Regions from separate parts of the Homo sapiens genome. Here all the other regions are linked to region 4. The links come from fine-mapping of genetic effects on gene expression. A gene starts in region 4. Each other region holds a variant in brackets. All regions are shown on one strand. Distances are from middle to middle. Region 1 overlaps ZNF74 (zinc finger protein 74). Region 2 overlaps PI4KA (phosphatidylinositol 4-kinase alpha). Region 3 has its middle 94 kb from the start of SERPIND1. Region 4 holds the start of PI4KA (phosphatidylinositol 4-kinase alpha). Region 5 overlaps PI4KA (phosphatidylinositol 4-kinase alpha). Region 6 overlaps PI4KA (phosphatidylinositol 4-kinase alpha).

Evidence for each region. PIP is the estimated chance that this variant, and not a neighbour inherited with it, causes the effect. A credible set is the group of variants that fine-mapping cannot tell apart.
Region 1: its variant is the best candidate, but not a certain one, in a credible set for the expression of PI4KA in skeletal muscle (FUSION, PIP 0.51).
Region 2: its variant is the best candidate, but not a certain one, in a credible set for the expression of PI4KA in whole blood (TOPMed, PIP 0.56).
Region 3: its variant is the best candidate, but not a certain one, in a credible set for the expression of PI4KA in esophagus mucosa (GTEx, PIP 0.72).
Region 5: its variant is the best candidate, but not a certain one, in a credible set for the expression of PI4KA in whole blood (TOPMed, PIP 0.53).
Region 6: its variant is the best candidate, but not a certain one, in a credible set for the expression of PI4KA in whole blood (INTERVAL, PIP 0.84).

The regions. Positions count from the first base shown.
Region 1 is chr22:20,401,574-20,406,998 of GRCh38, forward strand. ZNF74 (zinc finger protein 74) reads left to right here. Exons shown (of 5, transcript NM_003426.4): 5 at 3,804-5,425. The coding sequence ends at 5,395. Among named protein-coding and RNA genes, the nearest start is that of ZNF74, 10 kb to the left of the region's middle. RefSeq lists enhancers at 3,457-3,626, 3,724-3,893 and cis regulatory regions at 3,542, 3,809. The variant C/T (reference allele first, on the strand shown) is at 3,537.
Region 2 is chr22:20,752,850-20,757,849 of GRCh38, forward strand. PI4KA (phosphatidylinositol 4-kinase alpha) reads right to left here. Exons shown (of 55, transcript NM_058004.4): 24 at 261-331; 25 at 54-178. Among named protein-coding and RNA genes, the nearest start is that of SERPIND1, 19 kb to the right of the region's middle. The variant T/C (reference allele first, on the strand shown) is at 2,539.
Region 3 is chr22:20,677,158-20,682,632 of GRCh38, forward strand. No RefSeq gene overlaps it. Among named protein-coding and RNA genes, the nearest start is that of SERPIND1, 94 kb to the right of the region's middle. The variant T/A (reference allele first, on the strand shown) is at 2,279.
Region 4 is chr22:20,856,159-20,861,564 of GRCh38, forward strand. It overlaps PI4KA (phosphatidylinositol 4-kinase alpha), which reads right to left and starts at 2,653. Exons shown (of 55, transcript NM_058004.4): 1 at 2,412-2,653. The coding sequence starts at 2,567. It overlaps SNAP29 (synaptosome associated protein 29), which reads left to right and starts at 2,849. Exons shown (of 5, transcript NM_004782.4): 1 at 2,849-3,189. The coding sequence starts at 2,953. RefSeq lists silencers at 2,262-2,311, 2,332-3,091 and an enhancer at 2,771-3,580.
Region 5 is chr22:20,721,142-20,726,141 of GRCh38, forward strand. PI4KA (phosphatidylinositol 4-kinase alpha) reads right to left here. Exons shown (of 55, transcript NM_058004.4): 43 at 157-277. Among named protein-coding and RNA genes, the nearest start is that of SERPIND1, 50 kb to the right of the region's middle. The variant G/A (reference allele first, on the strand shown) is at 2,639.
Region 6 is chr22:20,823,669-20,828,668 of GRCh38, forward strand. It overlaps PI4KA (phosphatidylinositol 4-kinase alpha), which reads right to left. Exons shown (of 55, transcript NM_058004.4): 4 at 658-746. Among named protein-coding and RNA genes, the nearest start is that of PI4KA, 33 kb to the right of the region's middle. The variant T/C (reference allele first, on the strand shown) is at 2,399.

The DNA of each region.
Region 1 (5,425 bases), 450 kb before region 4:
AACAAACCTGGCCACTGGGACCAAATGGTCACCTGCTGATGGGGATGGGGAGGCAGGAATAGAAATATTGAGCCATTGGTGTTGGCTGGGCAGCCGGGGGTGTGGGATTGGGGGCAGGGGGCCACCAGGGAAGGGGCAGCTGGCGTTGGTCAGTGTCAGGGTCAGCATGAGCATCAGCATCAGGGCCAGCGTCAGCGTCAGGGTCAGAGCCAGCATCAGTGTCAGGGCCAGCGTGAGCATCAGCATCAGGGCCAGTGTGAGCATCAGTGTCAGGGCCATCATCAGCGTCAGGGTCAGAGTCAGCATCAGCATTAGGGTCAGCATCAGCGTCAGGGTCAGGGTCAACGTCAGCGAGGGCTTCCAGGCTGTGGCCAAGATGGCAGCCCTCCGTAAGGGAAAGGGGACTGGGGTGGGTGTTGAGCAGAAGGTAGTCTGCTTTTCTTCTCCAACATTCTTTTTGTAGACTTCTCTTCTGAGTTGGTTGATAAATAAGTGGTAAATTCGGCTTAATTTATTGGACAGTGACTGCTGAGCATGTTAGGTGTCTAGAAAGCTCGAGAAACACCTTTCTGTGGGAAAGGCAGCCGATAAGCTGTGGAGCACAGAACACGGGGGTCGGGGAAGGCAGCCCCTCCTCCATCCCCCTCCACTGCCACATACCACCCAGCCCCAACCTGCAACAGTGGCTGCAGCCCCAGCTTTCTGGTCTTTATTTCTCACCCCAGCCTCTGATGCTTGCTTTGTCCTCTTTAACAAGATTACAGGTTTCAAAAAATTCATATTTTTGTTTGATTCATATATGAATATACTGAAAATGAGGCTGAAAGGTTACTGAAATCCTGCATAATCTTTCCACCCAGAGATGACGGTTCTCTAATAACTGACCATGTCACTGATTCCTCTGGGCCCTTCCTCTGTGTGCGGATAGACTTCTAAAGCTACATGTGGCCAGGCGTGATGGCTCACACCTGTAATCCCAACACTTTGGGAGGCCGAGGCAGGCAGATCACCTGAGGTCAGGAGTTCGAGACCAGCCTGACCAACATAGAGAAACCCTGTCTCTACTAAAATTACAAAATTAGCTGGGCATGGTGGTGCATGCCTGTAATCCCAGCTACTTGGGAGGCTGAGGCAGGAGAATCGCTTGAACCCAGGAGGCAGAGGTTGCGGTGAGCTGAGATCGTGCCATTGCACTCCAGTCTGGGTAACAAGAGTGAAATTCCATCTCAAAAAAAAAAAAAAAAAAAAATTAGCTGGGCGTGGTGGTGAGCACCTGTAATCCCAGCTACTCTGGAGGCTTAGGCAGGAGAATTGCTTGAACCCGGGAGGCAGAGGTTGCAGTGAGCCATGATCGCACCATTGCACTCCAGCCTGTGTGACAGAGCTAAACTCCATCTCAAACAAATAAATAAATAAAGCCTTATGCACCCTCGGAAGCACAGCACTCACGCCGGAGTCTGGCTACCACACTGGCCATGGCATAGTGAGCGTCCTCACGTGATGTTTACTGATTGCACAGTATCCCTTAGATGAATGTGCCCTGCTGTGTTGTTGGCCCTATTGCTGCCAAAACAACTTTTTTCTGGCCTGGGCCTCTTCTCTCTGCTCTGTGCAACTTCCCTAGACTCTTACCTCTCACTTGGTGTGGATGTGGTCTACACTATAGCAACACCAGCTGAGCTGCAGCCCTGTGTCACTGACCATCTCGTGGGCCTCTGCTTGCATGTCTAAAACCAGACTTGGAACTGGCCCTTCCTCCTCCTTTATAAAAGCTTCCACCATCCACCCAGGCTTGGGTGTTTGCTGAGGTCTCATCCTCTCCCCCATTTCCTCTCTTGCCACCTTCAGTCAACAGCTAGGGCCATCAGTTTTAGCACCTAAATGGCTCTTAGATCTGCTGCTTCCTGTTCATTTTCACAGCCTTGGTTCCAGTCTGAAGTTGCCATTTTTCACCTGAATTATTCAGATGGCCTCCCTAACTGGCCTCCCTAACTGCTGGCTCCAACCACCTTACACACCACCAAAGCCACCTTCAAGACAAACCATTATGCCAGGCACAGGGACTCACACATCTAATCCCAGCACTTTGGGAGGCCAAGGCAGGAGGACCACTTGAGCCCAGGAGTTGGAGGCTGCAGCGAGCTGTGATTGCACCCCTGCACTGCAGCCTGGACAACAGAGCGAGACTGTGTCCCCGCCCTCTGCTTCCCCCGCCCCCCGTCAAGACACCATATGATCACATCACCCTCTGTGCAAAAGGCCTTTCTTCCCCGGCTGCCCTCTGAGTCAGGCATCTGGTCACCTCGAACCCATCCACCTTGCCAGGGTCACCTCTCAGCCTTCCTGCCTCTGCGTGTCTTGTCTTCATCTTACTGTCTCACCTCTGAGCTTCTGCACATGCTGTTCACTCTCCACCTGGCTACCTGCCATGTGTGCCATGGCCAGTTCCACTTGCCCTGCTCTTCTGCATGTGTTGGGGCCACAGGCAGCACCACCATGCAGCTCTGCCCGCTGCACTAGACTGCTCCCTTTTAAGCCTGGGGAGGACAGAATTAGAAATAAAATCTCCTGCCAGCTCAGAAAACCTTGCTATAGAGATAGAAAAGAAAGAAAGCCTTCTTATTGAATAAGTGTTTAACCAGATGTGGTGTACAGGAGAGAAAGAAACCTCCCCCTTTGACAGAGGAGACACATCCAACCCAGCACACAGGGCAACTGTCTTCACCTAAAGGAAGAGTACAGCTTTTTGGGTTTTGTTTGTTTGTTTGTTTTTTGAGACAGGGTATCCCTCTATTGCCCAGGCTGGGGTGCGGTTGCATGATCATAGCTCGAAGCCTCAACCTCCCTAGGCTCAGGTGATCCTCCCACCTCAGCCTCCTGAGTAGCTGGGACTATAGACAGGTACCATCATTCCTGGCTAATTTTGTATTTTTTGTAGAGGGGTCTCACTGTGTTACCCAGGCTGGTCTTGATCTGGGCTCAAGTGATCCGCCACCTTGACCTCCCAAAGTGCTGGGATTACAGGTATGAGCCACCGCGCCCAGCCTCTTGTAGCTTTTTGACAAGCAGGAAGTTACATCTTGGACTCGACTCTTGGACTAGGCTCATTTTGCTTCTGAAAAGGTTTGCATGCGTCTCGAGACAGAGAAAGCATTTGCAATTCCCAGTGTTCTAAAGGGAAGCGCTGGGGTGTGGGGAGCCCTTTTTTCCTTTTGGCACCACAGACAATTTTTAATTCATTTGTTAGTCCTAGCTACTCGGGAGGCTGAGGCCGGAGAATGGCGTGAACCTGGGAGGCGGAGCTTGCAGTGAGCCGAGATCGCGCCACTGCACTCCGGCCTGGGCGACAGAGCGAGACTCGGTCTCAAAACAAACAAACAAACAAAAAACATGTATTTGTCCTGTGTATTGCGAGCACCTGCCATGGTATTGATACAGAGCAGTCGGTCAGCCGACGTGTCCGTGAATGAGTGTAATCCTCATCAACAGCTCCCAAGCTTGCCCCTTTCTCAGCCCCCTTGGTGCTTGTAGCTGTT[C/T]CTTCCGGGATTCCTTTGGCTTCTCCGCCTCTCCCGGTCTTTGCTCTCTGGTAGCTCCTTCCGTGTTCTTCCTCTCCCTTCTTCCCGCTCTTGCTTGCCCATCTCATCCTGGGCGCTCCCTTCTCTCTGCCTGCACCTTCCAGCCTTGGCCCTGGTGGCCTCTCCTCTCTTTTCTGGGCTTATCTGCATCTCCAGGCCAATTCTCAAATCTGAATTCTAGGCCAGGTTTCCGCTTGCTCACAGAAAATCATTTTCAATATCTTACAGAATGGGAGCTGAAGGCGGTGCCCTCTCAACAGCAGGGCATTTGCAAAGAAGAACCGGCCCAGGAGCCCATCATGGAGCGGCCCCTCGGCGGGGCGCAGGCGTGGGGGCGCCAGGCAGGTGCTCTGCAGAGGAGTCAGGCTGCGCCCTGGGCGCCCGCACCTGCCATGGTCTGGGACGTCCCTGTAGAGGAATTCCCCCTCAGGTGTCCCCTCTTCGCCCAGCAACGCGTTCCCGAGGGGGGACCCTTGCTGGACACACGCAAGAACGTCCAGGCCACTGAGGGCAGAACCAAGGCCCCCGCGAGACTGTGTGCAGGGGAAAACGCCTCCACGCCAAGTGAGCCAGAAAAGTTCCCCCAGGTGCGCCGGCAGCGCGGGGCGGGCGCCGGGGAGGGCGAGTTCGTGTGCGGCGAGTGCGGGAAGGCGTTCCGCCAGAGCTCCTCCCTCACGCTGCACCGGCGCTGGCACAGCCGGGAGAAGGCTTACAAGTGCGATGAATGCGGCAAGGCCTTCACCTGGAGCACCAACCTTCTGGAGCACCGGCGCATCCACACCGGCGAGAAGCCCTTCTTCTGCGGCGAGTGCGGGAAGGCCTTCAGCTGCCACTCGTCCCTCAACGTGCACCAGCGCATCCACACGGGCGAGCGGCCCTACAAGTGCAGCGCCTGCGAGAAGGCCTTCAGCTGCAGCTCGCTGCTCAGCATGCACCTGCGGGTGCACACCGGCGAGAAGCCCTACCGGTGCGGCGAGTGCGGCAAGGCCTTCAACCAGCGTACACACCTCACACGCCACCACCGCATCCACACGGGCGAGAAGCCCTACCAGTGCGGCTCCTGCGGCAAGGCCTTCACCTGCCACTCATCCCTCACCGTGCATGAGAAGATCCACAGCGGGGACAAGCCGTTCAAGTGCAGCGACTGCGAGAAGGCCTTCAACAGCCGCTCGCGCCTCACCCTCCACCAGAGGACGCACACGGGCGAGAAGCCCTTCAAGTGCGCCGACTGCGGGAAGGGCTTCAGCTGCCACGCGTACCTGCTCGTGCACCGGCGCATCCACAGCGGCGAGAAGCCCTTCAAGTGCAACGAGTGCGGCAAAGCCTTCAGCTCCCACGCCTACCTCATCGTGCACCGGCGCATCCACACAGGCGAGAAGCCCTTCGACTGCAGCCAGTGTTGGAAGGCCTTCAGCTGCCACTCGTCCCTCATCGTGCACCAGCGCATCCACACCGGTGAGAAGCCCTACAAGTGCAGCGAGTGCGGCAGAGCCTTCAGCCAGAACCACTGTCTCATTAAACATCAGAAAATCCACTCCGGGGAGAAGTCGTTTAAGTGTGAGAAATGTGGGGAGATGTTCAACTGGAGCTCGCACCTCACTGAGCACCAGAGGCTGCACAGCGAGGGGAAGCCCTTGGCCATCCAGTTCAACAAACACCTGCTCAGCACATACTACGTGCCTGGCAGCCTGCTGGGTGCAGGGGATGCTGGACTGAGGGACGTGGATCCCATCGACGCGCTGGATGTGGCAAAGCTCTTGTGCGTGGTTCCCCCCAGAGCTGGCAGGAATTTCTCCCTGGGGAGCAAACCTCGAAACTAACATGATGTGCTTTGGTGTCAGTAGCTGCTT
Region 2 (5,000 bases), 100 kb before region 4:
TCACAGAAGTTTATATACATACACACAAAACATTAGCAGGAAAATGAGCTTACTTATCCACCAGACCAGATAGATACTTGTCTGCCACCCTCCTTATCCTCTTGTGGATGTGGTTGAAGTTCACCAACAGGAACTGAGCGTGCCGCTCCAGCTCCTCCTCGTTCTCCTTGGTCTTGGCCTAGAGATGCAAAAGAAACAGGTACCGCAGTGCCCCAGATGCCTCCAGCAGACAGACACGCATTCATGCTGGAGAGGCTTACTTTATCCGCCATCATGTTCAGGAAGGCATCGAATACTTTGTCCGCGACTGCAATCACACACTGCATCATCCCTGAAACGAGAAGGTTTCCATGGATAAGGTGCAGCAACAGAGAGAGAATCCTAGCAACTTTCAATCATTTTCTTTTGAAATGATTTTAGACTTACAGAGAGTGGCAAAGACAGCACAGAGCTCCCATATACCCTTCACCTAGCTTCCCTGGATTTTAACATCTGCAGTAACCAGGCTGATGTGTCAAAACTGAGTCAGATATTGATATAATCCTATTACCTAAACTTCAGACTTCGTCTGGATTTCCCAGGTCTCCCACACATGCCCCGCTTCTGTTCCAGCATCCAACCCAGGACACCAGGTGGCATTTAATCTGTGTCTCCTACTCCTGTCCAATATGTGGTGACTCCTCAGTCTGTCAATGTCTTTTGTGACTTTGACACTTTTGAAGAACAGTTATTTTGTTGAATGTCCCCTAATTTAGGTTTGTCTGATGCTTGTCCATGATAAGACTAGGGTTACAGGATTTGAGGGAGAACTCCATAGAGTGGATGTGCCCTTTCTTTTTTCTTTCTCTTTTTTTTGAGATTGAATCTCGTTCTGTTGCCCAGGCTGGAGTGTGGTGGCGCGATCTTGGCTCACTGCAACCTCCGCCTCCTGGGTTCACGCCATTCTCCTGCCTCAGCCTCCTGAGCAGCTGAGACTACAGGTGCCCACCACCACGCCCGGCTAATTTTTTGTATTTTTAGTAGAGACAGGGTTTCACCACGTTGGCCAGGATGGTCTTGATCTCCTGACATCGTGATCCGCCCGCCTCGGCCTCCCAAAGTGCTGGGATTACAGGCGTGAGCCACCGTGTCCGGCCTGGATGTGCTCTTTCTGCATCACGTAAGTGGTATGTGATAACAGTATCTCTTATTACTGGTGAAGCTAACCTTGATCCCTTGGTTTGAGTTACCGTTTTTCCCTTTTTCTATTTTTTTTGAGACAGGGTCTCACTTTGTTGCCCAGTCTGGAGTGCAATGGTGAGATCATAGCTCAGCTGCAACCTTGATCTCCCAGGCTCAAGGGATCCTCCCACCTCAGCCTCCCTGGTGGCTGGGATTACAGATGTACAACACCATGCTCAGCTAATTGATTATTTTTTGTAGAGACTGGGAGTCTCACTATGTAGCCCAGGCTGGTCTTGAACTCCTGGGTCAAGCAATCCTTCTGCCTCGGCCTCCTAAAGTGCTAGGATTACAGGCGTGAGCCACTATGCCCAGTCCCTTTCTCTATTCTTTAGAAGCAAGTCACTAAGGACAGCCCACACTCAGAGCCAAGGAATTAAATGCTACCTCCTGAAGGAAATTTGTGAATGAGAATTACAGCCACCACAGCGATTGATATTTTGGGGAAGATACTTTGAAGTTATGCAGAGATCATGTCTTTTAAGATTTTGCCCCTTCACTTTGGCATCCACGAGTGAATTCTGCCTGCAGTAGTTACTGTGGTTGTCATAGGAATTTTCTATTTCCCTCAATTCTTTCTACTTTTTAAAAAATGTTGGCCAGGCATGGTGGCTCACGCCCATAATCCCAGCACTTTGAGAGGCCGAGGTGGGTGGATCACGAGGTCAGGAGTTCGAGACCAGCCTGGCCAACATGGTGAAACCCCATCTTTACTAAAAATACAAAAATTAGCCAGGCATGGTAGCGTGCCACTGTAATCCCAGCTACTTGGGAGGCTGAGGCAGGAGAATCGCTTGACCCCAGGAGACAGAGGTTGCAGTGAGCTGAGATCATGCCACTGCACTCCAGCCTGGGTGACAGAGCGAGACTCCATCTCAAACAAAACAAAAATTTATTTTTTAGGGACAGGGTATCGCTTTGTTGCCTAGGCTGGTCTTGAACTCCTGGGCTCAAGCAATCCTCCTGCCTTGGCCTCCCAAAATGCTAGGATTACAGGCATGAGCCACCGTGCCCAGCCTCTTCTATTTTTATTAATAGTAACTGGAATTCTGTAAGGAAGGTTCAGCCTTTTTCCCCATTTTTTATTTATTCGGTAGTCTAATCATTACAGAACCGTGGATGTTTATTCGTTGGGTTATAATCCAATACCATTTATTCTATTCAAATCATTCCAGCTTTGGCCACTCGGAGCTCTTTCAGGTTGGCTCCTGTGTCATTCGGACAGGCCCCATGTCTTGTCTTTTCTTCTTCTTTCTTGGCGTGTCCTTACTTTCTGGTGTAACAAGGTGCCCCAGGCTCATCCTGTACAGGCCTCCC[T/C]AGAATCAACCATTTCTCCATGGAGCCCTGGTTCCTTTTATTGGAGAATACTATTTAGAAACCAAGATCTGAGCACCGGATATGCTCATTGTTACAGAGGTGCCAAGTAGGCTGTAAAAGGCAACAGAATGGGCTGGGCACAGTGGCTCATGCCTGTAATCCCAGCATTTTGGGAGGCTGAGGCGGGTGGATCACTTGAGGTCAGGAGTTTGAGACCAGCCTGGCCAACATGGTGAAACCCCGTCTCTACTAAAAATACAAAAATTAGCTGGGCACGGTGGTGCACACCTGTTAATTCCAGCTACTTGGGAGGCTGGGGCATGAGAATCACTTGAGCCTGGGAGGTAGAGGTTGCAGGGAGCTGAGATTGTGCCACTGCACTCTAGGCTGGGTGACAGAGCGACACACTGTCACATAAAAAAAAAAAAAAGAAAAGAAAAAGAAAAAAAGCAACAGAACACAGTGATCATCACAGTGCAGATGAAGAAACTGTAATAAAATGCCAATTCACACTCCATAATGCTGTTTCTCTATCCAGTGTTTTTAATTTGCATGACTACATGCTGGGTCTGCCCTCTGCCTCCAGGCAGAGAGACAAGGCAGGTGCTATCAGCTTGGCACCTCACACCCAGCATGAAGCCTGAGACATAAAGAGGCCTTTCATAGCTATCTGTTATAAGGGTAAGTGGGACCGCAGCAATTTGAAAAGTTATCAGTGTGACCTGGACAGATGCTCAAGGGTAGTGAGAGGCTGCTTTCTTAAGAGGCTGGGTTGGGTGGGTGAAATCTTATTTTGGGCCATGTGTTTAGTATAATAGCTTTTTTTTTTTTTTTTAATTTTTTGAGACAGAGTTTCGCTCATCGCCCAGGCTGGAGCGCAGTGGTGCGATCTCAGCTCACTGCAACCTCCGACGGGTTGCATTCCCAGATTCAAGCAATTCTCCTGTCTCAGCCTCCCGAGTAGGTGGGATTACAGGCATGCGCCACCATGCAGGGCTAATTTTGTATTTTCAGTAGAGATGGGGTTTCTCCGTGTTGGTCAGGCTGGTCTCAAACTCCTGATCTCAAATGATCCACCCGCCTTGGCCTCCCAAAGTGCTGGGATTACAGGCGTGAGCCACCACACCTGGCCTAGTATAATAGTTTTTTCATATAGTTCTTTGGAAACTGAAACTGTAAATTCCTGATAATCAGATAGACATCAGATGCCAATCAATGTCATGTAGTAGCATCTAAGGAGATTAAAAAAAATTTTTTTTTTGAGACGTAGTCTTGCTCTGTTGCCCAGGCTGGAGCGCAGTGGTGTGATCTTGGCTCACTCCAACCTCTGCCTCCCAGGTTCAAGTGATTCTCCTGCCTCAGCTTCCCAAGTAGCTGGGATTACAGTCACCTGCCATCACACCCAGCTAATTTTTGTATTTTTAGTAGAGATGGGTTTCATCATGTTGGCCAGGCTGGTCTCAAACTCCTGACCTCAAGTGATCTGCCCACCTCGGCTCCCAAAGTGCTGAGATTACAGGTGTGAGCTACCACACCCGGCCCTAAGGTAAGTAAGATTTTTACTTTAAAAAGGCCACTCTCCTCTTAACCCCTTAGTTTAGCTCTGGATTACTGGTGAACTGACTCACAGGATGGTGGGCAGGTGAGCAGCAGGCTCCTGCCCTCACGTTCCTGTGCAGCTGAGAACATAACAGAGGCTCATCTTATACCTGCAGAGAGGAGGCAGAAGTCCCCACTTTAGTGGGGCTGCTAGATATTTCATATACCCTCTCCTCCTGGTAGGTTCTGAAAATTCAAGAATAATATATGTCTCCAAAGACATTTCCTTCTTATCTTTCATGTTTTAGAGGAAAAATATAAGAGGGATATACACTCAATAGCTGTACATTTACTGGCTAAGTGCCACGCTCAGAACAAAAATAATCAGTTTGAAACCATGTGGAAGAGTACAATGTACTGCAAAAATGAAAATCGCTTTATTTTGAATTAAGGTGAGGAGGAACAATCAGTCCCCCGGAACAATTTAACGTCCTCTGATGTCACAGGAACAGAAAAACAGAGCTCAGAGAGAAGGGCGAATGAGACATCTCACTTCAGAAAGGGATCTGATTCGGTTTATGAATATTCTCTAGAAGGCTGGCAAAATCTGCTAGGTTCTCCTTCCTTTTTTTTTTTGAGATGGAGTTTCACTCTGTCTCCCAGGCTGGAGTGTGTGGTGTGATCTCAGCTCACTGCAACCTCTGCCTCCCAGGTTCAAGTGATTCTCCTGCCTTGGCCTCCCAAGTAGCCAGGACTACAGGCACACGCCACCGCACCTGGCTAATTTTTGTATTTTTAGTAGAGATGGGGTTTCATCATGTTGGCCAGGCTGGTCTCGAACTCCTGACATCAAGTGATCCACCCACTTCAGCCTCCCAGAGTGCTGGGATTACAGGCGTGAGCTACCGCACCCAGCCTTTTTC
Region 3 (5,475 bases), 180 kb before region 4:
GTGGCACAATCTGAGCTCACTGCAACCTCTGCCTCCCAGGCTCAAGTGATTCTCTTGCCTCAGCCTCCTGAGTAGATGGGATTACAGGTGTGCACCACCACACCCAGCTAATTTTTTTTATTTTCAGTAGAGACAGGGTTTTAACTCTGTTGGCCAGGCTGGTCTCAAACTCCTGGCCTCAAGTGATCTGCCCACCTCAGTCTCCTAAAGTGCTGGGATTACAGGTGTGAGCCACTATACCCAGTGCAGTTTCTATTTATTTGTGTTTTAATCTAGGAGGGTTGTATATTTCCAGGAATTTATCACTCTCTCTAAATTTTCTAGTCTGTGCACATAAGGGTGTTCATAGTAGCCTTGAATATATTTCATATTTCTGTGGTATTGGTTGTAATATTTCCCATTTCATTTCTAATTGAGCTTATTTGGATCTTCTCCCTTTTTTTCTTAGTTAATCTCACTAATGGTCTATTGATTTTGTTTATCTCTTAAAAGAATCAGTTTTTTGTTTCATATATCTTTTGTATTTTTGTTTCAATTTTATTTAATTCTGATCTTTATTATTTCTTTTTTCTTCTGGGTTTGGGTTTGGTTGGTTCTTGTTTCTCCAGTTCTGTGAGGTATGACTTTAGATTGTCTATTCATGCTCTTTGATGTAGGCATTTAATGCTATGAACCTTCCTCTTAATTTTGCTGTATCCCAGAGGTTTTAATAGGCTTTGTCACTATTATCCTTCAGTTCAAACAATTTTTTAAATGTTGCATAACAATGTTTATTTAGTTTTACATTTGTTTACAATTTCTTATAAACACTTTTCGTTATAATTTTATACAAACAACAGTAGGAGAAACAAGGAGCTAGAAAACATTAGAAAGTTGAGATTTGGAGGGAAGAATTTTAAAGACTGGAAGTACTAGAGGGAGAGAATCTAGAGAATGAAGGAGGCAATACTTGAAGAGATAACACAATGTTCCAAATTTGTTGGTAAAACATGAATTCGTAAATTCAGGAAACACAATATATACCAAACATATATTTAAATAAAATCCAGGCCTAGACTCAAGGTAGTAGTAAATGACAAGATACCAAACACAAGATTTTAAAAGCAACCATGGGGAGAAAAAGATCATCAATGAAGGCAAGACAGTCAAATCGTAGGCTTCGTAACAGCAACAGTGTACCCAAACAATTATTTTATTTATTTATTTATTTTTTGAGATGGAGTCTCGCTGTGTCGCCCAGGCTGGAGTGCAGTGGCGCAATCTTGGCTCACTGCAAGATCCGCCTCCCAGGTTCACGCCATTCTCCTGCCTCAGCCTCCCACCTAGCTGGGACTACAGGCACCCGCCACCACACCTGGCTAATTTTTTTTTGTATTTTTGGTAGAGACGGGGTTTCATCGTGTTAGCCAGGATGGTCTCGATCTCCTGACCTCGTGATCCGCCCGCCTCGGCCTCCCAAAGTGCTGGGATTATGGGCGTGAGCCACCGCGCCTGGCCATATTTATACTTTTTTAATACCACTAGGCTCAACCCGTATGATATTTTTTGCAGCAGCTTTCTTGAGATGTAATTCACATACCGCATAAATCGCCCATTTAAAATGTACAACCGAGCGGTTTTTAGCGTATTCATAGAGTCGCACATCACCACAATCAATTTTAGAACATTTTTATCACCCCCCAAAGAAATCCACATCCTTTAGCCGTCAACCTCCAATCCTTCCATTTCTCTGCACCTAGGCAATGTATAATCTACTTTCTGTCTGTATAGATTTGGGTACTCCGGATGTTTCACGTAAATGCAGTCATGCGACACGTGATCTTGTGGCTGGCTTCTTTCACTTAGCGCCATGTTTTCTAGTTTCACCCGTTTTCAGCATGTGTCCGTCCTTTTCCTTCTTTTCAAAACAGTTTTATTGAGATGCCATTCACATACCATGCAGTTCATTCATGTAAAGCATCTGTAATTCAATTGCCTTTAGAATATGCACAGTTACGTAGCCATCACCACAATACATTTTAGAACATTGGTATCACCTCAAATTCCTTTTTATTGCCAAATAATATTCCACTGTATGGATATACCACGTTGCATTTATCCACTGGTGGGCATTTTCACTCTTAGAATATTATAAATAATGTTGCTATGGATATTCGTGCACGAGTTCTTGTGGGGACATATGTCTTCATTTCTTTCAAGTATATACCTAGGAATGGAATTAATGGGTTATATGGTAATTCTATGATTAAGCTTTTGAGGAACTGTCAGACAAGCCATG[T/A]GATTGATTGATTGATTTTTAAAGACAGGGTCTTATTGTATTGCCCCAGCTGGTCTCCAACTCCTGAGCTCAAGCAATCCTCCTACCTCAGCCTCTGAATGGCTGGGGCTACAGGCACGTGCCACTGCACCCAGCTGCCATGTGATTTTTTTCTTCCCAATTTTCTCACTGAACATTAATCATGTGTATTTTCATGAATGGTTAAGTGTTCTTTGAGCATGTGGCTTTTAACATTTGCTTTTAACATTTAACATATCCAAATTTTAGTTGGCCAATCCCCTGTTATTGGGGACACTTCCAATTTTCATTATGATAAACAGCATTTCCATGGGCATCTTTTTTTTTTTTTTTTTGAGACAGAGTTTTGCTCTTGTTGCCCAGGCTAGAGTGCAATGGTGAGAACTGCAGCCTCCACCTCCAGGATTCAAGTAATTCTCCTGCCTCAGCCTCTTGAGTAGCGGGGATTACAGGTGTGCGCCATCATGCCTGGCTAATTTTGTATTTTTAGTACAGCTGGGGTTTCACCATGTTCGTCAGGCTGGTCTCAAACTCCTGACCTCAAGGGATCCAGCCACCTAGGCCTCCAAAAGGGCTGGGATTACAGGTGTGAGCCACTGCGTCCGGCCCCATGAGCATCTTTAGGCATCAATCTTTTATGCATCTCTGGTTATTTCTCTAGAGCACATTAGTCAAATGATTGTATCAAAGGGCACAGGCAGTTTTGAGGCTCTCAGTGCATGATGATATATTGCTTTCCAAAAAGGCTGTGCCCGTTTGCATTCTCAAAAGTAGAGTGTGCACCCCTCCTTATATTTTAATAGTTTCCTGAGGTCATCAGAACATGAACATGGGGAGGGCAGGGACTTGCTTGGGCATCTTGGATACCATGCCCAGTTGAATGTGCAGTACTTAGTAGGGGTTTGTGTGACAGGAATGAGTGAGAGCACATGAAGGCCCAGATGAGTGCAGGGTCCGTGGGGCACAGAGGAGGGTACAGGTGTGTGAGCACCGTGTGGACTTAGCACACGGCTGACGTGAGGACTCAGTGCAGACACAAGTGGTAACAAGGCCTCGTGAATCAAAGAGCTCCTCAACCTGGAGGTCGAAGCAGCTGATTGGAGATGAGGAAGCCACACTCCAAGGTCACTTAGGGACAGACGCTGGCAGGGCTGATCTGAAGACTGGCAGCAACTCCTTTTTATACTCCACTCTGCAAGCGCCAGTCTTTATGCAGAGTTCTGGAAGAATTCCCTTCACTGAGCTAGCAAGGCCATCAAACTCTGCGTTCACCTGGATATCCTAAGGAGACACCCATTACAAGGATGAACTTTGTTACTATCTGAGAACTTCACCATTTTTCACTCACACACGCAAGGTCTCAGAGAAGCTCCTTCGGGCGGCTTCTCCCCTGTGGATGACAGTCTCATACCCGCAAACTAGTAAGATCCAGGAGAGAAGGGGACAATGGGGGATGTTTAGAGGCCTGCTGTATTTATTTATTTAGAAATGGGATCGTACTGTGTCACCAGGCTGGAGTGCAGTGGCTCAATCGTAGCTCTCTTCATCCCTGAGCTCCTGGACTCAAGCTATCTATCCTCTTGCTTAAGCCTCCAGAATAGCAGGGACTACAGGTGCCCACCACCATGCCCGGCTATGCTGTATTTCCAGATCTGGGGGCTGGTTACATAGACACCTATGCTGTTTGTGAAAATTCTCCAAGCTCTATGCTTAATCTTTGTGCATTTTTCAGCATAGATGTTGTTCCTCAATTAAAAACAAAAAACCAAGGGGTTGTGAAGAACAGAACTGGCACTGATGGAGTCCTTCTCTGTGCAAGGCCTTTCCCTTAGGTCTGTCATCTCAGCTTATGTTCATGATGGCCTTGCGGGGTAGACGTTAGCCCCATTTCACAAAAACACAAGTCTGAGCCCAGGGAAAGATTTTCCTTGAACTATAAGTCTTCAAAACTATTTCCCTCAAAGCTCAGAATAAAATCTGGGCTAGTCAGATTATACTAGTGATAACAGATAACAACAGTTAAGGAATAGAAGGTAGAATATTCAATTCAGGCTAATTGTTTTTCTTTGTTTTTTTGTTTTTTGGGTTTTTTTGAGGTAGAGTCTCGCTCTGTCACCCAGGCTGGAATGCATTGGCATGGTCTCGGCTCACTGAAACCTCCGCTTTCTGGTTCAAGCAATTCTCCTGCCTCAGCCTCCCGAGTAGCTGAGGTTACAGGTGAGCACCACCACATCCAGCTAATTTTTCTTCTATCTTTTACAACACAGAGTTTCACTCTTGTTGCTCAGGCTGGAGTGCAATGGCACGATCTCGGCTCACTGCAACCTCTGCCTCTGGGTTCTCCTGGAGGTGATTCTCCTGCCTCAGCCCCCTGAGTAGCTGGGATTACAAGTGCATACCACTATGCCCGGCTAATTTTTGTATTTTTAGTAGAGACAGGGTTTCACCATGTTGGCCAGACTGATCTCGAACTCCTGACCTCAGGTGATCTGCCTGCCTCGGCCTCCCGAAGTTCTGGGATTACAGGCATGAGCCACCAACTCCGGCCAAATTTTTGTATTATTAGTAAAGACAGGTTTTGCCATGTTGGCCAGGGTGGTCTTGAACTCCTGACCTCAGGTGATCCACCTGCCTTGGCCTCCCGAGGTCCTGGGATTATAGGCGTGAACCATCATGCCCATCCCAGGCTAGTTATTGATTGATCGTTTATGATTCTTTGACTCAGAATCTTGTCCAGGATCTCACACTGATAGACACAGGATTTGGTCCCAACCCTGAACTGATTCCAAAGCCCATGGCATTCCCACGAGACTAGGGGCTTCTGATAATGACCATACATTGTGACAAGTAAGTGTATATTTGGGCAGGATAATGCCATATGACATTCTATTTCTTTTAGAATGACAGATCCAGTGCTGACAGGAATTCTCAGAGCAGCAGGCACATGGTTAAGGCAAGAACAGGCCATTAGAAGGAAATGGTAAGGACGTTTGACATCGGTTGTCCCAAACCTGAAGAATTGAAACTACACAGACACATTTCTGGAAAGGCTTTCACTCAAGTCTGGGTTGAAAAAAATCAGGGTTAGAATCAGCACTGATTTGTAACTCAATTTTTTTGTTTCCTTCCCTTTTTTTTTGAGATAGAATCTGGCCCTGTTCCCCAGGTTGGAGTGCAGT
Region 4 (5,406 bases):
AAAATTTGCCCGGGGTGGTGGCACACGCCTGTAGTCCCAGCTACTCAGGAGGCTACAGTGGAAAAATAGCTTGAAACTGAGAGGCAGAGGTTGCAGTGAGCCGAGATCTCACCACTGCACTCCAGCCTGGGCAACAGAGCGAGACTCCCTCTCAAAAAAACCAAAAAAGTGATTGGTAAATGTTGCCAATGAGACTGAAGTACTTCCTAAAGTAAGTGGCATTAGGGAGCTGCCAACCTGTGGCTATGGCTGTGTTCCTTGTAAAATATAATCTTTTTCTTTTTTTTTTTTTTTTGAGACAGTTTTGCTCTTGTCACCCAGGCTGAAGTGCAATGGCGCAATCTTGGCTCACTGCAACCTCTGCCTCTCAGGTTCAAGCGATTCTCCTGCCTCAGCCTCCCAAGTAGCTGGGATTAGAGGCACGTGCCACCACACCTGGCTAATGTTGGGTTTTTAGCAGAGACAGGGTTTCACCATGTTGGCCAGGCTGGTCTCAAACTCCGACCTCAAGTGATCTGCCTGTCTCAGCCTCCCAAAGTGCTGGGATTACAGGCATGAGCCACCGTGCCCCATCATAAAATATAATCTTGACAACTGAAGCAGTTATTACTACAAAGCTAAGAATGTTGCAATTACAGAATGTTCTCGTGACTAGTGAACATGGCTGAAGAAGCAAATTGAGCTCAAGGTGCCCTTTTCTGAGTTACTGAGTGGAAAGGGTGCTACCACTGCTGGAGCTGCAGGACCAGCTTCTTAAAGATCATCCAATTCACTGCATTCTCTTCTCTCTCCTCCCAGAATCCAGCAATCAGTCATAAGATATATTTGTTGGCTCTCCTGCTAAGAAGCGAATGTGCTGACTAGCTAGCATGAGTTTGATTCAATAAAACAGCACTACACTCCATTAGTCAGACTATCTAATGATAACAGTGCTCATACATTAGGTACCCACGTGCCTTTTTGTTGCTCTTCACAATACTCCTATGAAGTACTACCTTGTATTTGACAGAAGATAGCAAAGTATCAGAGAAGGGAACTGACCTGTCTAGAGTCACACTAGTGAAAGCAAGTGATACAGGATTTAAATTCAGAGGTTCCATTTTCCAAACTCATGTCCTTTCCATTGCATTGTACTCCCTCTTTAGCTAGAAGTCAGGTTAGCACCAATCTGCCGGGACCTTCTCACCCCGAAGGTGCATGATAAAATCAAATATGAGAACCGACAAGGCCAAGGACCAGGTCACTCTGCCAAAAGTGCCTAAAACAGCCTTTCAGCTTCATCCATCAGCAGACAGCCACAAAACCACTCCCAACTGCAGCAGGCTGGTCTCCGGTCACCACTGTCTTATCTTGTCGGAAAACATCCTCTCTCCATGTGCCAAAAAGTTGAGTGGGAAAATAATTCCATCCTTTCAGAGCTAAACACTGTGCTGAGTCTCATCGCACACGGGTGGGCAAAGAAAGTTGACATTTACTGCTCACCCACTCTGTGCCTTGACCTGTGCAAGATGCTTTATGCTAGAACTCATTTAATTCTCAAGAACAACCTCATTTTACAGATAAGGATACAGAGGCTCTAAGAGTTAAATTTACCCAAGAGGACATGGTAAGTAAGTGCCAGTGCAGGGAACAAATTCAGGTCCCACTCTAAAATCTGTCTCTTTCCAGATCTCAAGGCACACCACTGAGTTGCCTTTCACCTTTCTCCCAAGATGAGGATTGCTCTGGCATGACTTCACCTTTCTCTTCTGAAGCAATTCCAAGTTCACTTCTCTGCCCACTGACAGTTCACTCTCCTTTCCCTGCCACTGTCCCTTCTGCAAACGCACAATCTTTTACCCAACCTAACGCCCCCAGCCTCGTAGAATAACACTGCGCAGTTGGTTTACAGTCACAAAGCACTTTCAAGACAGTGTTTCGTCTCCTGGTCACCACAGTCCGGTGAAGCCGGCAAAGCAGATAAAAGCATCCCCATTTTACAAGAAAGCCATCTTCCCAAGGTCGCGGAATAAAAAGCAGGTGAAATCGGAAGCAGAACCCCAGGTCTTGACCCCTGGTCCTCGGCTCATCCCACTGCTCCGCACAGCCGCCCACGATCCAGCCTCCACCTCCGCGATGTCACAAGATGCTCCCTGGGCCAGCAGCTCACATCCCCCACCCCCATCCCACAACCACCCACCTGCAGCGGCCCTGCAGGCCCCGCCGACCCTTCCCCCACGGTCCCTCTCTCTTCACCAGCCCCTCCCACTAGGGCCTCCTTCCCCCGCTAGATCCCTCCGCTCAGGCGCCCCCTCCCGCACAGGCTGCCGGCGAGCCCAGCCTCGGCCTCCCACAGACCCTCGTCCCGCCTCCACGCTTCGTCACCCCAGCCCCTCCTCCTGTCAGCCCGCGGCCCAGCCCGCCGACGTTACCTTCTCCAAGGATGCTGGTCTCTGCACCGCCAGGGAGCGGGCCAGTGACAGGACCGTGTTGAAATAGAAGCCCCGCGAGGCGCTGGAGCCGGAGCCGGAGCAGCCGCCGCCGCCTCCGCCTCCGCCTCCGCCTCCCCGGGCCGGGGCCGCCGCCATCACCTCACGAGCCGCGGCGCTGCCCGCCGGCTCCCCGCTCCTGGCCCGCGAGCGCCCGACCTCAGGGCGCAGGCGTAGGTGCATCCGGCTTTCCCGCCACGTGACCTCTCAGTTGCTGACACTAGATAGGGCGTGGCTGCGGGGCGGGCCCACCGCTGCAGGGGAGAGAGGGGATGGACAGTAGGCTGCGGTTGCGCGCGCCGGATGTGGGCCCCCCCCAGCCGACCTGCGCGATGGTCGGCTCCGAGGGCGGGGCCACCTGCGCGCGACGCGCGGAAGGAGTTCGCGCGACGACCGCGGGGTCGGCGGGCGGGGCGAGGCCCTGGACGGCGGCGGCAGTGGGGCTCCTCCTTCTGTTTCCCAGACCGAGAGCCGCGCCGGCACCATGTCAGCTTACCCTAAAAGCTACAATCCGTTCGACGACGACGGGGAGGACGAAGGCGCCCGGCCGGCCCCTTGGAGGGACGCCCGAGACCTCCCCGACGGGCCCGACGCGCCCGCGGACAGGCAGCAGTACTTGCGGCAGGAGGTCCTCCGCAGGGCTGAGGCCACGGCCGCCAGCACCAGCAGGTCCCTGGCCCTCATGTACGAGTCCGAGAAGGTTGGGGTCGCCTCTTCCGAGGTGAGCCTGGGGCAGGGCTGGTGTGGACTCGCCGGTCTCTGTGCTGTCAAACGGAGACGAGAAATGTTTTGCTCACAATCTTTTGAGAATTCTCAAGTTGCCTAGCATAGATTCTTGCACCTTAGTGACTCGATGGTGGTAACAATCTGTTAACTATGTAAAGGTATGTGCATCTGGAGTACTTGAAGAGGGCAGTTTACCCCAGAAATCTTCCTTAGCTATTAGTCTGCTTCGTTGATTTTTTTTTTCTTACGCCTAGCTCACGGGGAAACGCCAGATTATTTTCTGTCCAGGTGAGTAAAAATTCTGAACAGCAGGTCCTAGGTTTGGGAAATGGAGAGTCCGTTTCTTCGACATTATTTCCTGTGCAAAATCTGGCACAGGGTTTTGGCCATTCCTTCCGGAGTGAGCCAGAAAGAGAGGACTATGTGCCTGCGAGTGTCAGGTGATACCCTGAAGCATCAGGGCAGGTGGTCCACGAGTTCTTCCCGCATCATTGACATCTCCACCTAACCAACCAATAGAGGTATTGAAGTCCCTTCAGCCCAGACAGCTGCCTAGTTGACCAAAGCCTGGGTTTGATTGAGTCCAGGGTCTTACCTTTACTTCCCAAATCCTAGACAAATAGTGTGCGGGTTAAGAGTTTGTTGCTCCAACTCATCTTCATCAGTTCTTCCCATCCTTAGATTTCAGAGAGTAGTACCTTCAATAACAATTATTCTGGCCGAGCGCAGTGACTCACGCCTGTAATCCCAGCACTTTGGGAGGCCTAGGCGTCGGATCGCCTGAGCTCAGGAGTTCGAGACCCGCCTGGGCAACATGGTGAAACCCTGTCTCCACTAAAATTAAAAAAAAAAAAAAACTAGCCGGGTGTGGCGGTGCGCCTGTAGTCGCAGCTACTCAGGAGGCTGAGGTAGGAGAATCGCTTGTACCCGGGAGGCAGAGGTTGCAGTTAGCTGAGATCGTGCTGCTGCACTCCAGCATGGGCAACAGACCGAGATCCTGGAGGGTCTTTTTCTTTTTCTTTTTTTTTTTTTTTTGAGATGGAATCTCGCTCTGTCGCCCTTGCTTGGGTACAGTGGCATGATCTGGGCTCACTGCAACTTCCGCCTCCGGGATTCAGACGATTCTCCTGCCTCAGCCTCCCGAGTAGCTGGGACTACAGGTGCGCCGCCACACCCGGCTAATTTTTTTTGTATTTGTAGTGGAGACAGGGTTTTGCCCCGTTGGCCAGGCTGGTCTGGAACTCCTGACCTCAGGCAGTCCGCCCGCTTTGGCCTCCCAAAGGGCTGGGATTACAGGCGTGAGCCACCATACCGGTCGAGAATGATTCTTTATTGTACACCACAGTCTCTCTTCAGCCTGCTAATGAAACAGTTTTGTTTGGACAGAGAAAAAAAAAGGTTTAAAAAAATGTATAAGCCAGGCGCGGTTGTACTTCTGTAATCCCAACAATTTGTAAGGCTGAGGTAGGCAGATCATTTTAGCCCAGGAGTTTGAGACCAGCAGGGGTAACTGCGTCTCTACAAAATTTGAAAAATTAGCCAGGCATGGTGGCACACACATGTGAGTGCAGCTACTGAGGAGGCTGAGGCAGGAGGACCGCTTGAGCCCAGGATGTCAAGGTTGCAGTGAGCCATGTTCATACCACTGCACTCCAGCTTGGGCGACAGAGCAACACGCTATCATTTCCCCTTGCTGTTTTCTTGGGTTAATTCCCTTCCCCACCTCTCTCTGTTCATGTATCCCTCATTGATCCACCTCCCTGTGGTTTTTTTTTTTTTTTTTTGAGACAGATTCTCGCTCTGTCACCAGACTGGAGTGCAGTGGCACCAACTTGGCTCACTACAGCCTCCGCCTCCTGGGTTCAAGTGATTCTCCTGCCTCAGCCTCCTGAGTAGCTGGGACTAAGGCGTGCACTACCACACCCAGCTAATTTTGGTATTAATAGAGTTGGGGTTTTGCCATGTTGGCCAGGATGGTCTCGATCTCTTGACCTCGTGATCCACCACCTCGGCCTCCCAAAGTCCTGGGATTATAGGCGTGAGCCACTGCACCTAGCCCACCTCCCTGTGTTTAACTGTTGGTTTTTTATTTTTGTTTTGTTTGAGACAAAGTCTTACTCTGTCACCCAGGCTGGAGTGCGATGGTGTGATCTCGGCTCACTGCAACCTCCACCTCCCCAGTTCAAATGATTCTCCTGCCTCAACCTCCCAA
Region 5 (5,000 bases), 140 kb before region 4:
GTGCTGAAAGGTGAGAAGTGCCCCAGCAAAGGGTGGGAGTGGAGGGGTCGGTGAGCTGGGGCAGTGCAGGCTGGCGAGAGCCCTGGGGGCTGTAGAAGGTGCTTGGCAGTGCACTGAAGACAGTAAGTGAGGCCTGTGGGAGGACAAAATACTCACGGTCTTTCTGGTGGCCCTCTTCATCTAGATAAATGTTAGTCTTCATGTTCCAGATGAACTGGTGTGCCAGAAGCTGGGATTTAGACGCTGCCCACAGAATATACTCCCGCACATAGCCCATCTGCAGGAGAGCAAGGTCCCTGTCAGCCAGGCTCGGCCCTCTCCATGAGGAGGGCCTTGTCAGCAGCTGCTGACTCCCGGCATTTGGTAGACCAGGCAAGGGTAAGGCCCGGTGGCTCTAGTGGTGTGGACAAGCTCTCCAGGATTGATGTTGAGTCCAGCCAGTGGCCAGGCCAAGTTCCAGCTGGCTGGGGGCTGGGACCTGGGGGGCAGGGTTGCAAAGCGGGCGACAGTCAGCCTTTGTCTCCTCTGTGTCTTCCCATGGGTTTAAGAAGCACAACTCTCAAACCAATTTCTGGAGTTGTCAAGTACGAGAAAAAGCAGGCTGGGTACTAAAAACTCACTTGTGAGCTGGTTGTTTAGAACAATGTTCCAAAGTGACAGACAGGTTCCAGAAACATGCAGAGATACCTCCTTCACAAACTGACACACTGATATGATTAGGTTTTGTGTCCCCACCCAAATGTCATCTTGAATTGTAATCCTCAGGTGTTGAGGAAGAGACCTGGTGGGAGGTGACTGGATCATGGGGACGGTTCCCCCTTGTTGATCTCATGACAGCGAATGAGTTCTCAGGAGATCTGATGGTTTTATAAATGTTTGACAGTTCCTCCTACACACACACTTGCTCTCTTTCGCTTGCTGCCAGGTAAGACGGACCTACTTCCCCTTCCACCATGATTCTGTTTCCTGAGGCCTCCCCAGCCACGTGGAACTGTGAGTCAATTAAGCCTCCTTTATAAATTACCCAGTCTCGGGAAGTTTTTTTGTTTGTTTGTTTGTTTTTGAGACAGAGTCTCGGTCTGTCACCCAGGCTGTAGTGCAGTGGTACAATCTCAGCTCACTGCAACCTCCACCTCCCAGGTTCAAGCAATTCTCTTGCCTCAGCCTCCCGAGTAGCTGGGATTACAGGCGCACACCACCACATCTGGCTAATTTTTGTATTTTTAGTAGAGACAGGGTTTCGCCATGTTGTTCAGGCTGGTCTTGAACTCCTCACCTCAGGTGATCCACCCACCTCAACCTCCCAAAGTGCTGGAATTACAGTTATGAGCCACCGCACCTGGCCAGGAAGTTCTTTATAGCAGTGTGAAAATGGACTAATATACACAACTGTGGTCACCATCCTAAGGACCTATCCTCCTCTTCCTTCTTGGTCATTTTCCGCCACTCATAGTAGTAACTCCAGTTTTTCTTTTTAATTAAAAAAATTTTTTTTGTTCCTAGAGCCATAAGTTTTGAAACTCCAGTTTTAATTCCATGCCCTAGGTTTAAAAAGGTGAGCTGGCCTTTCTGGGCAGCCTCCTGGAGTCTGTGGCCACTGATCTGGTGAAGTGTCCCTTGGATGGACATTTTTGACCTGGGTGAGTCGGGGGTGGTCTTACCACACAGGCAGAAGTCTTCACTTTGGGTTTCCCAATTCTAACCCGGCAAATGGATCTAAAGACAAACTATGAATGTTCAATGTGTAGTGTTTTTAAATATAAGTTTGCTTTTTAATTATGTAAACACTGACAGAGTTCCAAAGTCAAAATTATTAAATATGGTACATATCTGTCAGTTCCATCCTGATCTCTCCCTCTTTGGCCATTTTTATTAACTTTTGATTTACTGTTCCTTTTTTTTTTTGAGACAGAGTCTCGCTCTGTCTCCCAGGCTGGAGTGCAATCTCAGCTCACTGCAAGCTCCGCCTCCCGGGTTCACGCCATTCTCCTGCCTCAGCCTCCCGAGTAGCTGGGACTACAGGTGCCCACCAAGCCTGGCTAATCTTTTTTTGTATTTTTAGTAGAGACGGGGTTTCACCGTGTTAGCCAGGATGGTCTCGATCTCCTGACCTCGTGATCCACCCGCCTCGGCTTCCCAAAGTGCTGGGATTACAAGCGTGAGCCACCGCGCCCGGCCTACTGTTCCCTTTTTTTGTAAAAGTATAAACAAATATGTATATACATTTGTATTGCCATAGTGATATAAATTTTTTTAAACTTAAAAAATATTCCAGGCTGGGTGTGGTGGCACACGCCTGTAATCCCAGCATTTTGGGAGGCCGAGGCAGGTGGATCACCTGAGGTCAGGAGTTTGACACCAGCCTGACCAACATGGGGAAACCTCATGTCTATTAAATACAAAAATAGGCTGGGTGTGGTGGCTCACGCCCGTAATCCCAGCACTTTGGGAGGCCAAGGCAGGTGGATCACCTGAGGTTAGGAGTTCGAGACCAGCCTGGCAAACATGGTGAAACCCTGTCTCTATTAAAAATATAAAAATTAGCCAGGCGTGGTGGTACACGCTTGTAATCCTAGCTACTCGGGAGGCTGGGGCAGGAAAATCACTTGAACCTGGGAGGTGGAGGTTGCAGTGAGCC[G/A]TGATCGTGCCACTGCACTCCAGCCTGGGCAACAAAGACTCTATCTCAATAAATAAATAAATATTTATTATTTTTTTGAGACGGAGTCTCACTGTATAGCCCAGGCTGGAGAGCAGTGGCATGATCTTGGCTCACTGCAAGCTCTGCCTCCCGGGTTCATGCCATTCTCCTGCCTCAGCCTCCCAAGTAGCTGGGACTACGGGCTCCCGCCATCACACCTGGCTAATTTTTTGCATTTTTAGTAGAGACGGGGTTTCACTCTGTTAGCCAGTATGGTCTCGATCTCCTGACCTCGTGATCCGCCCGCCTCAGCCTCCCAAAGTGCTGGGATTACAGGCGTGAGCCACTGCGCCTAGCCATTAATTAATTAAAATAATTAACCAGGTGTGGTGGCACATGCCTGTAATCACAGCTGCTTGGGAGGCTGAGGCAGGAAAAGTGCTTGAACCTGGGAGGCAGAGGTTGTAGTGAGCTGAGATCACACCATTGCACTCCAGCCTGGGCAACAAGAGCGAAACTCTGTCTAAAAAAAAAAAAAAATTCTGGCTGAGCGCAGTGGCTCATGCCTGTAATCCTAGCACTATGGGATGCCAAGGCAGGTGAATCACCTGAGGTCAGGAGTTTTGAGACCAGCCTGGCCAACATGGTGAAACCCTGTCTCCACTAAAAATACAAAAAATAAGCCGGGCGTGGTGGCATGCACCTTCAATCCCAGCTACTTGGGAGGCTGAGGCAGGAGAACTGCTTGAATCTGGGAGGCAGAGGCTGCAAGGAGCCGAGAATGCCACTGCACTGCAGCCTGGGCAACAGAGCGAGACTCTGTCTAAAACAAAACAAAACGAACAAAAAAAAATTCCCTAAAAATGGAAAGCAAGAAAGAAACCAGTGAAACTAGCTGAGTCCTGAGTTGGTACAACCACACACAGAAGAATCATTTCAGGCGGCCTTTCTCTGGTAGCCACCACCAAGAGTTCACACGGAGGCCCTGGGTACTGGCTCCCCTCCCCACTGCCTCTGGATCTCACCCTTATGCTAGGCCTGTATGCAAGCAGAGAGCCAAGCAGTCAAGGGAAAATAATGTGGGAGGGGAGCCAGGGGGAAGGAAACAGGTTGCTGAAGAGAAGGTGCCTCATGACAATCCTGTAAGTTGCCACCAGTGTGAAGGCTCCGGCTTGGTGAGTGTGGCTCCACACATATCACCACTCAGAGGCGCAGAGAGTGTGGCACTACCTAGTGAGGGCAGTGAATGATTCCACAGGACTCAGTCTTTCAGCAGAGGCTGGCTGCTGTTCTAGAAGCACTTTGGTCTACAGACTCCAAGGCTAGCCCCTGGGACACCCAGCCATGTAACTCAGCCAGCCCACAGGTGGGCCAGAGTGGTGAGGACTCAGCCAGGACACATGGAGTCTGCTGCCCAATTCATCCAGGGAAATGAGGTCAGCCCTGGGGTTGGGGAATAGGGCAGACAAGCTGCACTCAGACACAGGGTGCAGTGGGCAGGCTGGCGCGAGGGCAGAGGCGGCTCGGGCTCCTGGCTGTGGTCATTCCCATGGATATTTTCTGTGCCATGACCTGTGCTGAGCACTTTATGTCCATGGATACTGTTACGGGCTGAACTGTGTCCCTTCAAATTCATATGTTACAGGACCTCAGAATGGTACTGTATTTGGAGATAGGGTCTTTATAGAGATGATTAAGGTAAAATGAGGTCAATAGGGTGGGTCCTAATCTAGTATGACAGGTGTTCTTATAAGGGGAGATTAGGACACAGACACACACAAAAGGATGACCCTGTAAGGACTCAGGGAGAAGATGGCTATCAATAAGCCAGGGAGATGGGCACAGTGGCTCAGGCCTATAATCCCAGCACTTTTGGAGGCGGAGGTGGGCAGATTGCCTGAGCTCAGGAGTTTGAGACCAGCCTGGGACAACATAGCGAAACTCCATCTCTACAAAAAATACAAAAATTAGCTGGGCGTGGTCGCACACGCCTGTCATCCCAGTTACTTGGGAGGGGTAGCGGGGAAGGTGCTGAGGTGGGAGGATAGCTTGAGCCCGAGAGGTTGAGGCTGCAGTGAGCTGAGATCACGCCACTGCACTCTAGCCTGAGTGACAGAGCGAGACCCTGTCTCTTAAAAAAAAAAAAAAAGCCAGGGAGACAGGCCTCAGAAGGAAACAACCCTGTTCGAACAATGACCTTGGACTTCTGGCCTCCAGAATTCATGTTTTTTGTTTGTTTGTTTGTTTTGTTTTTTGGCCTCCACAATTCTGAGAATGAGAATAGACATTTCTGTCGTTTAAGCTGCCCAGTCTGTGGTGCTTCGCTATGCAGCCCTGGCAGACTAATGCATATGTCATCTCG
Region 6 (5,000 bases), 33 kb before region 4:
TGGCTCACACCTATAATCCCAGCACTCTGGGAGGTCGAGGCAGAAGGATCACTTGAGGCCCGGAGTTCAAGACCAGCCTGGGCAACATGGCGAAACCTTGTCTCTACAAAAAATACAAAACAAATTAGCTGGCATGATGGTGCACGCCTATAGTCTCAGCTACTTGGGAGTCTTAGGAGGGAGGCTGGCTTGAGGTGGACGGCAGAGGTTGCAGTGAGCCAAGATTGCACCACTGCACTCCAGCCTGGATGACAGAGCAAGACTGCCTCAAAAAAAGAAAAGAAAATGATCTTCTATGAATGACTTCAATCCCCAACAAAGAGCAAGAAAAATGAGCTGCCTCTGCCTTTTTCTGCCGCCTACCTTAAAGGACTTTCTGAAAAGCTGAAAGGGATAGTGCTGCTCATGTCTCTGCAGCCCCTGCCCTTCATTAGAAAAAAGAAAAAAAAAAAAAGAAAAGTTTAATAAGATAAGACTCGAGATCCTAAAGAGTAGTGAAAGACCTAAGCATGTCTTAGGTCTGCTGTCAACAGGATGAAATAGATAAATATCAACAAACAATTCAATCACATTTCACGTTTTTAAAATCTTTTCATCACTTTGGGACTCTATTCAATCTAATAGAAATGCATACCAAATCAACCAACACATGCTTACCTCATCCCTAAGTGAAGGATCCCTATAGGCCACATCAGACAGCAGAGTTACCAAGCAGAAGCTGAAGCTCTCTGCAACCGGGAGGGCACCTGGAAGATGTAAAAACATAAATCAGATAACCAGGAACCAGATACTGGGTCACACCTCTGGCCATCCAATTCAATATGTTCCCTCTCACCATGACCTGCCAAGGGACCAGTTTACAGCAGCTGCCCTCCTTGAGACGAGTCTCAAAAGAACAGCTATGGGCCCAATGAGTTTGCTGAGAAACACCCTTACCTTTCCTTTAAGTAAATGTTTTGGTTCAATAAACTTAAATGTTTCCTGAGCCAATAGCTAGTGTGAGATAACAAAGCCTCTCAACATGACAGATTCAATTTTTTATTCCCTAAGTAAATGTGATAAATCACACACACACACACACACACACACACACACACACACACACACACACAAAACACTCGGCTGGGCGAAGTGGCTCAAGTCTGTAATCCCAGCACTTTTGGGGGGCCAAGGCAGACGGATCACCTGAGGTCGAGTTCAAGACCAGCCTGGCCAACATGGTGAAACCCCGTCTCTACTAAAAATACAAAAATTAGCTGGGTGTGGTGGCGCACACCTGTAATCCCAGCCACTTGGGAGGCTGAGACAGGAGAATAGCTCGAAGCCAGGAAGTGGAGGTTCCAGTGAGCCGAGATCGCACCACTGTACTCCAGCCTGGGTGACAGAATGAGACGCCATCTCAAAAAAAAAAAAAAAAATCAATTTTGAATATTGAATGTTGAATCAAGGAAAAAAGAGTATCCACTATTTAATAGCTATATTCATAGTACATGACAGAAGACTTACATTTCTACTCCAGCACTTAAAATTTTAAAGTGCAGCTCTAGGCTGTTCTCAAACTTGAATGTGCCCATGCCCGGCCTAAAATTTGACCTTTTAGTAATGATGCTCTATTTAATTTGTAGTCCATCAAATTGCAGGACAGACTGGGTGCAGTGGCTCATGCCTATAGTCCTAGCACTTTAGGAGGCCAAAGCAGGCAGATCACTTGAGGCCAGGAGTTCAAGACCAGCCCAGCCAACATGGCAAAATACTATCTCTACCGAAAATACAAAAATTAGCCAGGCATGGTGATGCATGCCTGTAATCCCAGGTACTTGGGAGGCTGAGGCACGAGAATTGCTTGAACCCAGGAGGTGGAGGTTGCAGTGAACCGAGGTCAGGCCACTGCACTACAGCTTGGAGTGCAGACAGAGTGAGACTGTCTCAAAAAAACAAAAAACAAACAAAATCCTAACAAATTGCAGGTACATGCATAATTTGGGATCTGTCAGTTTTAGGCATGTTACCAGAAATGATGAAAACCCAAAGGTTAAGAGGAATACTGGCACAAACAGAATGTTTTTTAATTTTTATTTCAGGTTCAGGGGTACATACGCAGTTTTGTTATACAGGTAAACTGCATGTTACGGGGGTTTGGTGTACAGATTATTTCATCATCCCCGTAATAAGCATAGTACCCAGAAAGTAGTTTTCCCATCCTCACCTTCCTCCTATTCTCCACTCTTAAGTAGGCCCCAGTGTCTGCTGTTCCCTTCTGTGTTCATATGTACTCGAAGTTTAGCTCCCACTTACAAGTGAGAACATGCAGCGTTTGGTTTCCTGTTGCTGTGCTAATTCTCCCATAACGGTCTCCAGCTCCATCCATGTTGCTACAAAAGACGTGATCTTGGCCAGG[T/C]ATGGTGGCCTCACACTTGTAATCCCAGCACTTTGGGAGGCTGAGGCAGGCAAATAACTTGAGGCCAGGAGTTCGAGACCAGCCTAGCCAACACGGCAAAACTCCATCTCCACTATAAATATAAAAATTAGCCGGGTGTAGTGGCACATGCCTATAATCCCAGCTACTTGGGAGGCTGAGACAGGAGAATCGCTCGAACCTGGGAGGCGAGGGTTGCAGTGAGCAGAGATCGCACCACTGCACTCCAAGCTGGGTGACAGAGCGAGATCGTCTCAAAAAAAGATAAAATAAAATAAAAAATAAAAGGACATAATCTTTTTCTTTTTTTATGGCTACACAGTACTCCACGGTACACATACGACATTTTCTTTATCCAGTCTTCCACTGATGGGCATTTAGGTTGATTCCTTATCTTTGTTATTGTGAATACTGCTGTAATAAACATACTTACGCATGCATCTTTACAGTAGAATGATTTACATTCCTTTGAGTATATACCCAATAATGGGATTGCTGGGTCAAATGGTAATCCTGTTTTAAATTCTTTCAGAAATTGCCAAACTGCATTCCACAATGGCTGAACTAATTTACATTCACACCAGCAGTGTGTAAGTGTTCCCTTTTCTCTACAACCTCACCAGCATCTGTTATTTCTTGACTTTTTAATAATAGCCATTCTGACTGGTGTGAGATGGTATCTCATTGCAATTTTGATTTGCATTTCTCTGATTATTAGCATCAGATGATGAGCATATTTTTCATATATTTTTGGCCACTTGTATGTCTTCTTTTGAGAAGTATCTATTCGTCCTTGGCTCACCTTTTAACGGGGTTTTTTTTTTGTTTGTAAATTTAAGTTCCTCATAGATTCTGGACTTTAGACCTTTGCATAGTTTGCAAATATTTTCTTTCATTCAGTAGGGTGGCTGTTTACTCTCTTGACAGTTTATTTTACTGTGCAGAAGCTCTTTAGTTTAATTAGGTCCCATTTGTCAATTTTTGTTTTTGCTGCAATTGCTTTTGGCATCTTTGTCATTAAATTTTTGCCATTAAATCTTTGCCAGGGTCTATGTCCAGAGTGGTATTTCCTAGTATCTTCCAGGGTGTTTATAGTTTAAGGTTTTACATCTAGATCTTTAATCCATCTTCAGTTGATTTTTGTATAAGGTGTAAGTAAGGGGTCTAGTTCCAATCTTCCGAATATAGCTAGCCAGTTATCCTAGCGCCATTTATTGAGCAGGGAGTCCTTTCCCCATTACTTGTTTTGTTGACTCTGTTGAAGATCAGATGGTTCCAGGTGTGCAGCATTATTTCTGGGCTCTCTATTCTATTTGTCTATGTGCTATTTTTTTTACCAGTACCATGCTGTTTTGGTTACTGTAGCCCTGTAGTAGAGGTGAAGTTTGAAGTTGGGTAATGTGATGTCTCCAGCTTTACTCTTTTTCAGACTACCTTAGTTATTCAGGCTCTTTTTTGGTTCCATAAAAATTTTAAAATAGTTTTTTTCTAATTCTGTGAAGAATGTCATTGGTAGTTTGATAGGAATAGCACTGAATCCATAAATTGCTCTGGGTAGTATGGCCATGTTAACAATATTGATTCTTCCTATCTATGAGCATGGGATGTTTTTCCATTTGTTTGTGTAAGCTCTGATTTCTTTCAGCAGTATTTTGTAATTCTTGCTATAGAGATTTTTCACCTCCCTGGTTAGCTGTATTCCAAGGTATTTTATCTTTTCTTTTTTTTGAGATGGAGTCTCACTCTGTCGCCCAGGCTGGAGGGCAGTGGCACAATCGCGGCTCACTGCAACCTCCGCCTCCCAGGTTCAAGCGATTCTCCTGCCTCAGCCTCCCAAGTAGCTGGGATTACAGGCGTGCACTACCATGCCCAGCTAATTTTTGTGTTTTTAGCAGAGATGGGTTTCACCATGTTGGCCAGGCTGGTGTCGAACTCCTGACCTCAAGTGATCCACCTGCCTCGGCCTCCCAAAGTGCTGGGATTACAGTCGTGAGCCACTATGCCCGACTGGTATTTTATTATTTTTGTGAATATTGTGAATGGGACTGTGTTCTTGATTTGGCTCTCAGCTTGGATGTTGTTGGTGTATAGGAATGCTTCTGATTTTTGTACATTGATTTTGTATCCTGAAACTTTGCTGAAGTTGTTTATCAGATCAAGGGGCTTTGGGCAGAGACTATAGGGTTTTCTAGGTATAAAATCATATAATCTATGAAAAGAGATCGTTTGACTTCCTCTCTTCCTATCTGGATGCCTTTTATTTCTTTCTCTTGCCTGATTGCTCTGGCCAGGACTTCCAGAACTATGCTGGATAGGAGAGGTGAGAGAGGGCATCTTTGTCTTGTTCTGGTTTTCAAGGGGAATGCTTCGAGCTTTTGACCATACAGTATAATGATGGCTATGGGTTTGTCATAGATGGCTATTATTACTTTGAAGTATGTTCCTTCAATGCCTAGAGTTTGTTGTGGATTTTTTTGGGGTTTTTTTTTGAGACAGAGTCTTGCTCTGTTGCCAGATTGGAGTGCGGTGGCGTGATCTCGGCTCACTGCAACCTCTGCCTCCCGGGTTCAAGCGATTCTCCTGC